Linked DNA regions of Homo sapiens: region 2 is linked to region 1. A link means that fine-mapping ties the variant in region 1 to the expression of a gene that starts in the linked region. Tissue or cell type: whole blood. Region 1 holds a variant in brackets; the other region holds the start of a gene. All regions are shown on one strand. Distances are from middle to middle.

Region 1 (8,108 bases):
TAGCTGGACACCCAGTTGGTGTCAGAAGAGTTGAAATATTGTTCACTGGTGTAGAAAAAGCCCACATATTGGTGTCATACATGTTAGAAGTAAAAACAATGAGAGATAAAGGTACCCATATGATGCTTAGCTTTCTCCATTTAACTTGAAGTGGTAAAATATTGATTCTAAGTAGACTGTGAAAATTTTGTTAACTGTGTAATGTAATTCCTTGAGTAAACACTTTTAAAACTATGAAAAAATACATAGTTAAATATACAACAGATAAGTATAGTATGCTACAAAATGTTTGTATAATTGGAAAGAAGGTAGGAAAGAGAAAACAAGAATGAAAAACAGAAGATAAAACAAAACAAATAACAAAATGGTAAACCTGAAGGCAAATACATCAATGCTAACAGACATCTATAGAGCACGTTAGCCAAAAACAAAATATTCATTTTTCTATATATATACACGAAACCTTCTCCAGGATAGATTATATGTTAGGCCAAAATCAAACTTGAATATATTTAAAAGGACAGAAATAACACAAAGTATGTTCTCCAGTCACTTTGGAATAAAATAGGAAATTAATAACAGGAAAAAATCTGGGAAACTCACAAATATATAGAAATGTAAAGACACACTCCTAAATAACCAATGGATCAAAGGAGAACTCAAAAGGGAAATCAGAAAATACTTGGAGATGTATGAAAATGAAGATAAAACACACCAACCTTATGGAATCCAGTGAAAGCAGATGAGGGCTTAGAGGACAATTTATAGCTGTAAATGCTTATATCAAGAAGGAAAAAAATAAATCAATAAGCTAATATTCCACTTAAAGACACTGGGGAAAGAAGAGCAAACTAAATCTAAAGCAAGCAAAATGAAGAAAATAAAGATTAAAATGAAAAATAATGAAATAGAGAATAGAAAGACAATAGAGGAAATCAATAAAATTAAAAAACTGGTTCTTTGAAAAAAATCCAACAAAACTGACAATCCTATAGCTAGACTGGCCATGAAAAAGAGAAGATTCACATTCCTAGCATCAGAAATAAGAGAAGACATTATTTCTGACCTTGACAGAAATACAAAGGGTTGTAAAGGAAGAATATGACAGCAATTGTACATCAACAATGAAATAACTTAGATAAAGTGGGAAGATTTCTAGAAAGATATAAACTACCAAAACTGATTTAAGAAAATATCAAAAGTCTAAAAAGAATTATAATAATCAAGATTGAATAGCTAAGCAAAAAATCTACCCACAAAGTAAAGCCCTGTATCAAGTGGTTTCACCACGGAATTCTACTAAATTTTTTTTTTTTTAAATGAACACCAATTCTTTACAAATTCTCTTAAAAAAGAGGAGGGAATACTTTACAATTCATTTTATGAGGCTAGTTGCCCTGATACCAAAACCAGACAAAAACCTCATAAGAAATAAAAACTAAAGATGAATATATCTTATGAATAGATGCAGACATCATGAACAAATACTAGCAAACCAAATCCAACAGCATATAAAAGGAAATATCCACCATGACCAAGTGGAATTTTTATCCCAGGAATGCACAGTTGATTCAACATTTGAAAAATCAATTAATGTAATGCATAATAACAACAGAATAAATACAAAAATTACATGATCATTTCAAAAGATGCAGAAAATACATTTGGAAAAATCCACACTCTGTCATAATATAAATACTCAAGAAACTAGGAATAGAAGAAAACTTCCTCAACCTGATAAAAGGTAACTATAAAAAACTCACTGCTACTATTATCCTTAATTGTGAAAACATGGATGCTTTCCCTCAAGATGAGAAATAAGACAAGGATGATCGCTCTCTTCACTTATATACAACATTGTTCTAGAAGTTCTAGCCAGGGCAATTAGGCAAAAATAAAAAGAAAAAGCCATCAGTTTGGAAAGAAAGAAATAAAACTGTAGATGTTATGATCTTGTATATATAATAGTCTAAGGAATTCACTTTAAAAAAACTATTGGCACTAACAAGCTCAGCACGGGTGCAGGATATGAGATTAATATACAAAAATCAATTGTGTATTTTTACATATTTGCAATGAACAATCTGAAAATGTAATTAAAAATATTTGTTTATGATAGCATCAAAAATAAATTCTTAAGAATAAATTTAACATAAAAATTGCAAAACTTACTATACTCTGGAACTATAAAACATAATGAAAAAATCAAAGATCTAAACAAAAGGAAATATATTTCATATTCATGGATTAGAATACATAACACTGTTAAAATGACAATACTCCCCAAATCGTTACACAGGTTAAAAGCAATCCCTATCAGAATCACAGAGATTTTTTGCAGACATCGACAAACTGATTCGAAATTCATATAGAATTGCAGGGAATCCACAATAGCCAAAACAATCTTAAAAATGAAGAATAAACTAGGACTCATACTTCCTGATTTAAAAATTTACTACAATGCGATAGCAATCAATCAAGACAGTGTGGTACTGGCATAAAGATAGAAATACAAATCAATGGAATGGAATTGAGAGTCTGGAAGTATATCCATACATCTGTGGTCAACTGAGTTTTGAAAAAGGCTCCAGGACCGTTCAATGGGGAAAGAATAGTCTTTTCAACAAATTATACTAGGTGGAATGGATAGTCACATCCAAAGAATGAAGCTTGATCCTTACCTCACACTGTATAAAAAATTAACTCAAAATAGATCAAAGATCTAAATGTAAAACAAAAAAACTAAAACTCTTAGAAGAAATCTATTAGTTAGGGTTCCCTAGAGGGACAGAATTAATAGGATGGATGTAGATGTAAAGGGGAGTTTATTAAGGAGCATTAACTCACACAATTACAAGGTGAGGTCCCACAATAGCCCATCTGCAAACCGAGGAGCAAGGAAGCCAATCCCAGTCCCAAAGCTGAAGAACTTGGAGTCCGATGTTTGAGAGCAGGGAGTATCCAGCATGGAAGAAAGATGTAGGCTCAGAGGGTAAGCTAGTCTAGTTTTTTCACATTCTTCTGTCTGCTTTTATTCTGGCTGAGCTGGCAGCTGATTAGATTGTGCCCACCCAGATTGAGGGTGGGTCTGCCTTTCCCAGACCCACTGATTCACTGATTAACTGATTCAAATGTTAATCTCCTTTGGCAACAGGCTCACAGACACACCCAGGAACAATACTTTGCCTCCTTCAATCCAATCAAGTTGACACTCAGTATTAATCATCACAAGTCCACCCCTTGTCAACTTGAACCCATACACATCTCCTGAAATCATACATAATCTGCAAATAAAGACAATAATAAGGTAATAATAATTATGCCTAACATAATACAACCATCCTTCATACAACCAGAAACACACCAATCCCCAATTCAAATGCTATTACATAAAGTTAACAACATTTAAATGTTGATATGAAGTCAATAAATCTTATGTCACTAAAGGAAAAAGGAAATAAAATGAAGATATTTTCTTTTTTTTTTTTTTTTTTTTTGAGATGGAGTCTTGCTCTGTCACCCAGGCTGGAGTGCAGTGGCGCGATCTCGGCTCACTGCAAGCTCTGCGTCCCGGGTTAACGCCATTCTCCTGCCTCAGCCTCCCCAGTAGCTGGGACTACAGGCACCCACCACCACACCTGGCTAGTTTTTTTATATTTTTAGTAGAGACAGGGTTTCACCATGTTAGCCAGGATGGTCTCGATCTCCTGACCTCGTGATCCACC[C/T]GCCTCAGCCTCCCAAAGTGCTGGGAATACAGGCGTGAGTCACCGCGCCCGGCCAATGAAGATATTTTCTTAGTACAAGTGTATACATGCACAAACGTGTTCTTAACGAAGGAGGAAATACTCATGACAATTACAGTCCTTGTTTTTGCAGCTGGTCATGTGGTCATAGCTGGTATTGATGACTACCTTCTTCTACTACCCATTTTGTATTCCCTTTGCCTTCAGCAAGCACCTCAGGAGGTCGTGGTTTTTTTCCTGGTGGAGTGACCCAAACCTTCATTCCTGAAGAGTCTGAGCCATTTATAGTCCTGCCTGGATTGGGCTGTTGTAGTTTCCCATTGACCTTAATCATAGGGCATGGTAATACTAAGAGATGCCCTAGTGGATCTCCTGTATTCCACACATACTCTTCGTTACCTCCACGGTGGAGTGAAATTAGTAGTGAAATTAATAGTAGACTAATTTCATCTTGATAGTTCGAGTCAGTCACCCCAGCCAACACTGTAACTCCCTTCTCTTAGCCTGTTGACTTAAAGGTAGGAGTAGCCCAAAGTGTCCAGGTGGCAATCTTAACTTCCAGTTTAATGGAATTGTTGTTATGTCTCCTGGTGGCAGTGTTCCTTCTTGTGGAACTAAGACTCCTAGGCCAGCAGGATGTAATGCTGTGGGAACAGGAAGCAAAAATTTTGCTAGTGGATCACTAGGGGTGATGGTGAGTGGTGCCACTTCCACTTCCACTCCTTGATTCCTAGACTTGTGAATTGCAGCTATGGGAGAAACAGTACCATATATTGGATGCTGATTCAGAGCATACACAGCCTTCTGGAGAACTTTGTCCTGGCCCTGCAAACTGTTGTCACCTAGTTGGCATTGTAATTGTGACTTCAAAAGGCCATTCCACTGTTCTATTAATCCAGCTGCTTCAGTATGAGGGGGAACATGGTAAGACCAGTGAATTCCATGAGCATGAGCCCACTGTCACACTTCTTTAGCTGTAAAGTGAGTGCAATGCTGTGTGGAATACCATCACAGTGAATAAAGCATTTTGTGAGTTCACAGTTGGTAGTTTTGGCAGAAGCATTGTGTGCAGGATAAGCAAACCCGTATCCAGGGTAAGTGTCTATTCTGATGAGGACAAAGTGCTGTCCTTTCCATGATGGAAATGGCCAGTATAATCAACCTGCCACCAACCAGCTGGCTGATCATCCCAAGGAATGGTGCCATATTGACAGCTCAGTGTTTAGATTAGATGGTGCCCATTCAGATTGAGGGTGGGTCTGCCTTTCCCAATCCACTGACTCAAATGTTAATCCCCTTTGGCAACACCCTCACAGACACACCCAAGAACAATACTTTGCATCCTTCAATCCAATCAAGTTGACACTCAATATTAACCATCACAAACCATACAGAGAAATCTTTATGACTTTGGATTTCGCAAAGGATTTTTAGATATGATACCAAAAGCATGAGGAACAAAAGAAAAATAAATTTGACTTCATTAAAATTAAAATCTTTGTGACCCAAAGGACATCAAGAAAAAACATGAAAAGAACAACCCAAAGAATGGTAGAGAATATTTGTAAATCAAATAAGGTACATGCATCTAGAATACATAAACAACTCTTGCAACTCAATAATAATAAACCCTAAATAATCCAGTTGAAAAATGGGCAAATATCTGAATAGATTTCTCTAAAGAAGATAAACAAATGGACGACAAGCACTTGAAAAGATGCTTGAATATTAGGGAAATGCAAATCAACCAAATACAACTTCCTATCCACTAGGATGGCTAGAATGAAAAGGTCAGATAATCACAAATGCTGATAAGGATATGGAGAAATCAGAACCCTCCTACACTGCTGCTGAGAATGAAAAATATCATAGCTACTTTGGAAAACAGTTTAGCAGTTCCTTAAATGATTAAACATAGAGTTACCATACGACCAAGTAATTCCACTCATAGCTATATATCCAAGACAAATTGTGAAGACAAATTGTGATATTGTGAAATATACATTTGGTATTTGATCCAATTTCCTGGCATACAACTTCTGAAATCCTTAGTATCTCCAAAGTGATGTCTTTTTGTATGCTAATGATTGGCTGATGGTTGGCTTCTCCTAGGTAGCTTCAGGATGGGGGCTGGTTAACAGAAAGACCAAGGCAAAATTAGGAGGTCGAAACTTTCAGCTCACTCCTAGCTCCAGGGAGGGGAGAGGGGCTGAAGGTTAAGTTGATCATCGGTGGCCAACAGTTTAATAAAATGTCTACATAATGAAGCCTCCATAAAAACACAAAAGGACAGGGTTTGGACAGCTTCTGAATCACTTAGCATGTGGAGGTTCCTAAAGAGTGGAGCACCTGGGGAGGACATGCAAGCTCTGAGCCCATTCCTCATACCTCAACCTATACATCTCTTTATCTGTGTCTTTTGTAATATCCTTTATAATAAACTGGTAAATGTAAGTAAGTGTTTCCCTGACTCCTGTGAGCTGTTCTAGCCAATTTATCTAATTTAAAGAGAGGGTCATGGGAACCTCAACTTAAAGCTGGTTGGTCAGAAGTTCCAGAGGCCCAGACCTGCGACTGGTGCCTGAAGGTGGTGACAGTTTTCTGGGACTCAGCCCTCAACCTTTGGGATCTGACACTACCTCCAGGAAGAGTCAGAATTGAATTGGAGGACACCAGCCCACTGCAGAACTGATTGCTTGCTTGGTGTGTGGAGAAAACCCTCCAACATTTGGTCACAGAAGTCTTCTGTGTTGATTGCAGTTATGCTGTGAGAATATAGAAAATAAACAGTTTGTGTTTTTTCCATTTACAAATAGCATGACCACAAAATAACTGCTGCACGGATGTTTATAGCAGCATTATTCATAATAGCCAAAGGTGGACACAGCCCAAATGTTTATAAATGAAGCATGAAAAAAGTGGTATATCCATTATTTGGCCAGAAAAAAGAATAAGTTACTGATACATGCTACAACTTGGATGGAACTCAAAGCCCACATGTATATATCCATTCCTATGAGAGTCCAGAATAGGTAAATCTATAGAGACAGGAAGTAGGTTAGTGATTGCTGCTTAGGAATGGTGGGGGTGAGGATGAGCTGATGAGTGCTAAAGGGTATGATGTTTCTTTTTGAGATGAAAATGTCCTAAAGTTGACTGTGGTGATGGTTGTACAACTCTGAATATCCTAAAAACCCACTGAATTTGTAGTAGAGACAGGGTTTCAATATGTTGGTCAGGCTGGTCTCGAACTCCTGACCTCAAGTGATCCACCTGCCTCGGCCTCCCAAAGTGCTAGGATCACAGGCATGAGCTACTGTGCTGTGGTGGCAGGCACCTGTAATCCCAGCTACTCGGGAGGCTGAGACAGGATAATAGCATGAACCCAGGAAGCTGAGGTTGCAGTGAGCTGAGATTGTGCCATTGCACTCCAGCCTGGGTGAGAGGGCGAGACTCCATCTCAAAAAACAAAACAAAACAACAACAACAAAAAAACCCACTGAATTGTATAGTTTAAGTGGAAAGACAACTTAAAAGACCAAGAAATTGTATGGTATACAAATTATATCTCAATAAAGTTGTTAAACCTAACCCTAAAAAGAAAAAAAAGCAAAAAATAAAGGATGAAAAAGATATACTGTGTAAACACAAATCAAAAGAAAGCTGGGTGATTAGTATCAGACAAAATAGATTTCAGAGCAAAGACAATTACCAGGGATTACAAGGGACATTACCTAATGACAGAAGTGTCAGTTCACCAAGAAGACACCTAACAACAGAACTTCAAATTGCACAAAAGAAAAACTGACAAAATTGAAGGTAAAGAACGAATTCACAATAATAGTTGAATATTTCAACATGCCTGGCTTAGTAATTGATAGAACCATAAGCAGACAATCAGCAAGGATAAAGAAGAGGCAAACAGCATCACCATTCAGCTGGACCATATTGACAATTGTGGACCACTTCACCCAACAACAGCAGAATAAACGTGCTTTTCAGGTGCACATGGAATAGTCACATACACAGAGCACATCTTACGTTATTAAAAGACACTTAACCAATTTAAAAGAACTGAAAAATATGAAGTATGTTTCTGCCCACATAATTTTAAATCAGAAAATAACTAAATATTTTAATATTATCACAAGATAATATTCTTTAAAAATTTTTTTATTTTAATAGTTTTGGGGGAACAGGTGGTATTTGGTTGCATGGAAAAGTTATTTAGTCATGATTTCTGACATTAAGGTGCACCCATCATCCAAGCAATGTACACTGTACCCAGTGTGTAGTCTGTTATCCTTCAGCCTCTCCCACCCTTTCCCCTAAGTCCCCAAAGTCCATTATATCATTTTATTCCTT
Region 2 (8,103 bases), 110 kb before region 1:
GTGGTGGCGTCCAGTGCTGAGTGGCGGAGAACATGAATAGGATAAGGGGAGGAGGGGAGAGGAGGGGAAGCGGAGGCAGGGCAAGCTAGGAGTGCAGCCAGGGAGGGCCTCACTGAAGGGAAGCCACTGAGCCACGAAGCACCTTTCTCCTAAGGATGCTCAAGAGAAATGCAGACCCACGATCCCTCCCCTGCATTCGTGAAACCCATAAAAGCCTGAAACCTGGTAGTTTTTTGTAATTCATTTGGCAACAAAACATAACCTGAACTAGCATAACGCTATTTATCGTTACTACCCCAACTCAGTTTTTAGACTTCACTTGCTTCTCTGCAGAATTTGTGTCATTTGATTTTAGGGTGCTACTTCAGATGCCACCAGGACTGTTAACTTGAACACGGTATGTGCACTGCATCATGAATGTTATTCACGACATGGTATGCACACAGCACTGCATCACACGTGTTACCCAGAACCTGGGGCCACACTGGATCACAAACCTGAACACCGTGAAACTCATCTGACTCTAAGACTTCAAAGAAGCCACTGTGGAGCGGCAGCTTATTCATGGCAGTAGGCCTCTAGCCAGAACTGCAAGACTTAACGAGACTGAAGTAAAAAGAGCAGCTTGCAAAAAATGCACATGGAAAAAGCCAGCAGCAACACAGGATATAAGTCAAGCAGACACTTCAGGATAAATCAAATTTTAGAAGGGAAGATTCCAAGTAAGAAGATCAAGTTGTCACACATTAGCTTTTGTAAATAATTGAGTCCTGTTGAATTTGTATAGAATTTACAGTTAAGATGGTATGAAAACTTAGTTGTACATTGGAACTAATTATGCAAGCTCTCAGTATAAAAGGAAAAAAGGGTTCAAGCGTGGTGGCTCACACCTATAATCCCAGCACTTTGGGAGGCAGAGGCAGGAGGATTGCTTGAGCTCAGGAGTTCAAGACCAGCCTGGGCAACATGGTGAAACCCTGTCTCTACAAAAATTAGCCAGGTGTGGTGGCATGAACCTGTAGTCCCAGCTACTTGGAAGGCGCTGAGGCAAGAGGATAGCTTAAGCCCAGGAGGTGGAAGATGCAGTGAGCCCAGATCACATCACTGCACTCCAACCTGGGCTACACAGCCAGACCCTGTCTCAAAAAAAAAAAAAAAGGATGAGCTGCAGGGTGAGAATTGGAGCTGGTAAAGCATTTTTTACCCTTGGGTGAAAAACCTTATTTTACATAGTCGGAACCTGAGGCTGGAAAGCTTAGCAACACCCAGGAAGATGAGACTATCAATATGCTTACAACAAAACTACCAAGACTCAGACGTTTGTAACAAACTCTCCATCTAAAACCAGGCAGAGTGATGTGACTGCAGGAGACCCCCTCCCACACAGATGCCCCCCTCCCCTATTCACGGAGAAAGTAATGGAGAAGCTAAAGAAAGTCAAAGAAGAAAGAAAAATCACCAAGGTCTCAAAACCAGTTAGAACTTGGGAAAATGCCCGCTGACCTATGAAGCCCTCGTGGTCTGAATCAACCATGTTCTCGCAAATCTTGCCTGCTCAAGTTTGTCCGATCATATCAGTTGCATGAATTATGGGCTGGGGTGGGGGATCCACATATGACAGCCTGTTTTATGCTAATGTTTACTTCCAGCCAGACATCATTCCAAGTTACATTCTGTACCTTAACTGATTTCTCCTGAAGCCAACTCTGTGAGGCTGACTGTTACTATTTCTACTTTACAGATGAGGAAACTGGGGCATAGAGAGCTCAAAGGTCCCACACCTGGGTGTGAACTAGCAGTTTCCACTCAGCCAGCAAGGGCCAGCATGCCACAGACTTCCCCAGTGAGAGGCTCTGAACCTCATGGCCAATAAATAAGGACATAAATGTAGCTCTTTTTCAGAAAATACACTTTCCGGAACACTGAAATATAATGCTACATTTTAATGTACATGATTAAAAATATATACCTAAGGTGTTTAAAAAGTAAAACCCTGGCCGGGTGCAGTGGCTCACGCCTGTAATCCCAGCACTTTGGGAGGCCGAGGCGGGCGGATCACCTGAGGTCAGAAGTTCGAGACCAGCCTGGCTATTAAAAATACAAAAATTAGCCAGGCGTGGTGGTGTGCATCTGTAATCCCACCTACTCAGAGGCTGAGGCAGGAGAATCGCTTGAACCCGGGAGGTGGAGGTTGCAGTGAGCTGAGGTCACGCCACTGTACTCCAGCCTGAGTGACAGAGTAAGACTGTCTAAAAAAAAATAAATAAGTAAAACCCACCTTTTCCACACCTACTATGTAAGTAAGAAATCCTATTAACCCGATCATTACCCAAATAGAAAGAAATAATATGGTATTCAAATATTGGTATCTTCCACAGAATTAAAGTTGGAGTTCTTTGCAGCACCGCCTGTTTACCCCTAATTAATTTGGGCGGCTGCCACACACACACACGCACACACGCACGCACACACGCACGCACACACGCGCACACACGCACGCACGCACACACACGCACACACGCACACACACACACGCGCACACACGACACACACGCACAGACGCGCACACACGACACACACGCACACACACGCACGCACGCACACGCACACGCACGCACACACACACGCACACACAAACGCACACGCACACACACACACGCGCACACACACACGCGCACACACACACACACGCGGAGGGCGAGCCAAGGGAAGGGATTCAGAACAGGATACTCAAAAAGAGGAAGAACCGTCGTTTCACCACCCGCCGCAGTGAAAGCTGAAATTAAGTGTCCCCTCCACGACTTCTTCGACCTCTGAGAGAACTTCGAGTGCAGGAACAGTGCTCCACCAAGCCTGCCACCTGCTTTGTCGCGTCCTAGGCTGGGAGCAGTCTGTGGGATGAGTTTCCAGTCCAGCTCCAGGCTGGAGTGTACCCAGGACCTCACCCTACCCCCTACTCCTTCCCAGGGGTCACCCCGGGGAGTGTTCAGGGCTCCCCAACCCACTTCTTCCCAGGAGTCACCCCAGAGCGTGCCCAGGGCTCCCCCCAACCCACTCCTTCCCAGAGGTCACCCCGGGGCGTGCTCAGGACTCCCCTCATCGCACTCCTTCCCAGAGGTCACTTCTGAGTGTGCTAAGGGCTCCCCCCAACCCACTCCCTCCAGGGGTCACCCCGAGGCGTGCTCAACTTCCCAACTTCTTCCCAGGGGTCACCCCGGAGCGTGCTCGGCTCCCCCCGCCCTCCCCAGTCGCTGCCCGGGGCTCAGCGACCGCCGACCCCGAGAGCTGCAGCCTTCACCCAGTGGAAAGCTCTAGGGCCCGGCTCCCACGCTCCCCACTTTACCTCGCAAGGTAACTCACCGCAGGCGCTTGTCCGCACCGCCCAGGCAAAGCAACGCCAGGCAGAGGCAGCCCAGCAGGGCCCCGCGCAGGGCTGCAGGGCGCATGGTGCCGACCTGCGGAGAGAACGCTGCCAGCTGCCGCTCCGGCTCCCACTTCCCACCTGCTGCCCGAGGAAGACTTCCGGGAGAAACGCTGTCTCCGAGCCCCCGCGCCGCCGCGCTCCCTCCGCTGCAGCAGCGGCCACCGGGTGCGCCCGGAGCCCTGGGACGGCCTAAACCAGTATCTCGCGGGCCCCGCGCCGGGCTCCGGGAATGGCCGCAGCAGCCCTGGCGACCCGGGCCCCTCGGAGCTCCCCTTCAGGATCGTGCACCAAGCGCGCACGTCCCGGGCTCTGCTTCGCGACCCACAGCGACCCCAGCTCCTCCACGCTGCAGCCGCCGTCCGCCCACGACCACGGTCAGTCGCGTTGCTCCCAGCCCAGGGCGCCCTGCGGGCCTGCACCGGAGCAGAGAGCCACGCCCCCAGGACGGCACGCCCCCGCCGGTGGACACGCCCCCCAGAACGGCACGTCCCCGCCCGGCGTTCACGCCCCGCCCCGTGGTTGGCTCAGAGAGGCCGAGGCAGGAGCAGCTCCGCGGGCCTTGAGGGCGTGTCAGGCGGCTGTGTTCCTTCGCCACGCAGGCGCCCCGCGCCTTTTCCCGCAGCTCTGCGCCACTCCCACACTCCCGGGTCCGAGCTAACCTAGACCACCCGTGAGGACCGCCCTCGGGGGGACCGCCCGTGTCTGCGCCATCCCCCGCCAGCAAGTGGGCGTGCGGGCCCCAGGGCCACTCTACTCTCCAGGGACAGCCCCCAGCCCGACCCGCGCACCCTGCAGGCCCGCGGTCCGCACGCAGCACCCGCTTTCAAAAACTGCGCCCTGCAAGCTGCCCGGGAGCTCCTGACTGCAGATGGTGCTTGGCCGCCCAGGCTCCCCGCAGCCTCCCGCCACCTCGGCGCTCCACTGCGCAGCCCGAGGGACGGCTCCAGAATTAGGAGGGGACCTACTCGGGTCACTCTCCTGGAAACCTCTCCAGTCTCCCGGTGCTAGGTGCTGGGAGCACCAACATTCCTAGAAGGGCCTGGCCCTCACCCAGCCCTGGGCCTCACCTGCCCCTCCCCGCGGGCCCCAGGAGCCCGGAAGTCATCTCTGTGGGGGCAGCAAAGAGCCGCCTCGGGGCGCGACCTGGGAAGTCATCTTGTGAGGGATCCCCTCCCAGAGGGACGGGCCACCCCCCACGGATGAAGGGGACTTCATGTCAGCCCCACCTTGGCGTAGCCAGGGCCAGTCCCATAGGCCCGGTCTCCTCCCCCAACACCCTGGCCTTCCCAGCCCTTCAGAGGCACGGGTTCCCCTGCACCCGCGGCCCCGCCCACGGGCTGTGCACCCGGCATTGTCTCTGCAGATGTTTCTCCTCTTTCCCTTCCCTGTCCGCACACCCACAGCTAGTTAAGGCTATTCCTATTTACACGTCGAGTAAACTGCGCCTTCCTCGGGGTCCTCTGCCACTGGTAACTGTCTAAATAGCAGGTGGGCCTGTAGCCTGCTCTCCCACAGGCCTGGACCTTGCCTGCATGCATTACCATTCTTTGAAACAAAATATTTAAATGATTAATCTGTTTTTCCCACTAGACTGCAAGGCAAGGCCCATGTCTATTTTGCCCACCTTGAGTCCCTGCCACTGAGCACAGTGGATGGGGGACAGTCGGTGCTCAATAAAATGCCACCTGTGGAACAGATGGGGGGGGAAAATGGCTGACACCTCCTTAGCTCCTCCAGGACCTCCTACAGGTCATGGTGTTATTCTCGTTCTCCTTTTCCCTAACGACTTATTTGTTTCTTTCCGGCTCCTTTCATTCCTTCCTCTCAAGAATATAGGCACACGCCACAGTTCTTTTTCTCTTTTCTTTTAAGCTAAAAAAATAATTTTCTTAAAACAAAAGTGCTTCCCAGAATCCTCATTTTCCTTTAAATCACAGTCCGGTGTGTTTAAACAGCCCCTTGTCAAGGAGGGCTGTTGTGACCACTGCCAAATATAAAGCAAATCTGGACTCGGGGAGGAGTGGTGTTATGAGGACCATTATTGCAGGGGCCTGGGGGCCTTTTGTCCCTACTAAAAATACAAAAATTTGCTGGGCGGGGGTGGCACGCGACTGTAATCCTGTGGCAGGAGGAGCGGCAGACAAAACCTCTCAGACACCGAGCTATAGAAGGAAGGGCTTTATTCAGCTGGGAGCATCGGCAAGCTACTGCCTTAAAATCCGAGCTCCCCGAATGCACAATTTCTGTCCCTTTTAAGGGCTCACAACATTAAAGATTTCACATGAAAGGGTCGTGATTGATTTGAGCAAGCAAGGGGTACGTGACGGGCTGCATGCACTGGTGGTCAGAGAGAAACAGAACAGGGCAGGGAGTTTCACAATGTTCTTCTATACAATGTCTGGAATCTATGAATAACATCGGTCTCTAAGTCATGAGTTGATTTTTAACTACTAGGTTTAGGCCAGGCAGGCCCAGGTCCGGTTTTGGGCCTGGCGCCGGGCTGCCTGTCTTTGATTTCACTTCCTTGTTTTTTTCTTAAAACAGGTACTGAGTATAAAACAATATAAAACAATATGAGAGGGTCTCTCTCTTCCCTCAATCCCAGCTACTCTGGAGGCTGAGGCAGGAGAATCGCTTGAACCCAGGAGGCAGAGGTTGCAGTGAGCCGAGATCGCGCCACTGCACTCCAGCCTGGGCGACAGAGTGAGACTCGGTCAACAACAACAACAAAAAGAATGAATGAAAGAAAGAAGAAAGAGAGAAAAAGAAAGAGAGAGAAAGAATGAACTGGGAATGGAGAAGTGGGATGAGAACCTGCCTTCATAGGACATTAGATCAGAGAAGGTTGACCCCGTGGCCAGCCTGTTCTCAGGGGGGACTGACTCAGGCTAAGATGAGGCCAAAAGTCCTCAGCCTCGGGGGAAGAGAGGAGCCTCACCAAGTTTGCTTAACAAGTGTGTTATTTCTATTGACTGGCTCATCATTGATGAGGTGAAGAATGGGAATTGGAGGATCTGTGTCTGGCTTTGTCCTAGGTAATGGGTAGGGGGTGGAGTGAGGGGAGCATCCGTCACTTTTCCTTTTTTTTTTTTTTTTTTTGGAGACAGCGCCCAGCTGCATCACTTCTATCACTCTTACCTATGTTATGTGGGGAAGAAGGGGGTCTCTCGCAGCAAGCCACTTTCCACAACTCACAGAGAGGAGATTTTTATCAGATAAATTCAGCAGCGTCCTACCCAGCCTGAAGAAGCCACCCAGTCATTTCCTGTTGCACTTCCTTGTTTATTTTCGACACAGTTCTCCCCACCCCTGAGAATTCTTGTCACTTCCTCCTGTACTGCCCACTTCTACTCCCCCACCCCCACATCGGAAGCTAATGAGGAGCTTCAGGCCCCTTGCTGGCATGGGCCCCACCAAGACCCCATATCTCATTCCGTATTCACAATTTTACCTTCTTGTTCTTAAAGAAGGACATCCAAATGGAAAAGCTCTCAACCCCCCAAAACTTGGATGTGAACCTGGAGCATCTGTCATCTGTCTTGTTCACTACTTGTCCACCTACCAGGATCCTAAACGGAACCCTACGTAGGGAAGAGGCAGTGGCTGTAAAGGCTGGATTTGGGTCTGGAAGCCGCCCAGCTTTACGAAAACAAAGAGGGCTCCAGCATCAAGCAGGTGGGCAGGGGCCAGAGTGGGAATTACATTGACTCACACAACATAGTGTAAAAGGGTACAAACTATGAGGTTTAAAAGATGCTGCTGGCTTGTATAGAAACATGTCCTTAGGAGAGGGGAGGGGGACAGGATGGCAACAGCCATGTCTATGAACAGACATCCTTAAATCCTTGTTAATTCTGAAGAGACCAAGATACTTTCACCACACAACCTCTTCTTGGCATTAGCTCCAGGTTTCCTGTTTCCATGCCAGCTTTTGCTGGGTTATGCTACAATAATACACCGCCCCCAAATCTCAGTGTCTCACTTAAACGGAAGTTGATCATTTATCATTCATTTGCCCATATTCCATGCTGGCTATGCGTCAGATGCCACTGTGGTCCACGGTATTTTTCACTCTGGAACCCAGGCGGTAGGAACAGCCCATATCTGGTGCTGGCCATTCCAATGGCAGAGCAGTGGCACAACTACACAGTTTAGGATTCTCATGCTCTAAAGAGCTTTGTCACACTTGAAAGAATCTCACCTTAAAAACTCCTTTCCATCCTGAATTACTTATTTGCTGAGAAAGTGAGGCCAGCTGCTGGGTGTTTCCCTGCCCTTTCTCTTCTTTTTCTTTTTCTTTTTTTTTTTTTGAGACAGAGTCTCACTCTGTCAGCCAGGCTGGAGTGCAGTCAGTGGCACAATCTCGGCTCACAGCAACCTCCGTCTCCCAGGCTCAAACAATTCTCCTGCCCTAGCCTCCCGAGTAGCTGGGATTACAGGCGTGTGCCACCACGTCCGGCTAATTTTTGTGTTTTTAGTAGAGACGGAGTTTGACCATGTTGGTCAGGGTGTCCCAGCACCTCTGGCCTTGCCATGCCAGCCTGGCCACTGTGGTACACATTTTGTGGAACTCTTTTATTCTGAGCTGTGGCCATGACAAAAGGAGGACAGGAGAGAAACAGAAAAGACCAGTCATGTGTTTCTCACAATATAATTTGTTCTTCAAGTGTGACTTAACT

Evidence for each region. PIP is the estimated chance that this variant, and not a neighbour inherited with it, causes the effect.
Region 2: RNASET2 starts here. The variant in region 1 is fine-mapped to the expression of RNASET2 in whole blood (TOPMed, PIP 0.95).

What each region holds. Positions count from the first base shown.
Region 1 is chr6:167,060,160-167,068,267 of GRCh38, forward strand. No RefSeq gene overlaps it. Among named protein-coding and RNA genes, the nearest start is that of CCR6, 59 kb to the right of the region's middle. The variant C/T (reference allele first, on the strand shown) is at 3,726.
Region 2 is chr6:166,952,737-166,960,839 of GRCh38, forward strand. It overlaps RNASET2 (ribonuclease T2), which reads right to left and starts at 3,814. Exons shown (of 9, transcript NM_003730.6): 1 at 3,361-3,814. The coding sequence starts at 3,446. RefSeq lists silencers at 3,580-4,339, 4,380-4,479, 4,750-4,799, an enhancer at 5,764-5,883 and a cis regulatory region at 6,564-6,850.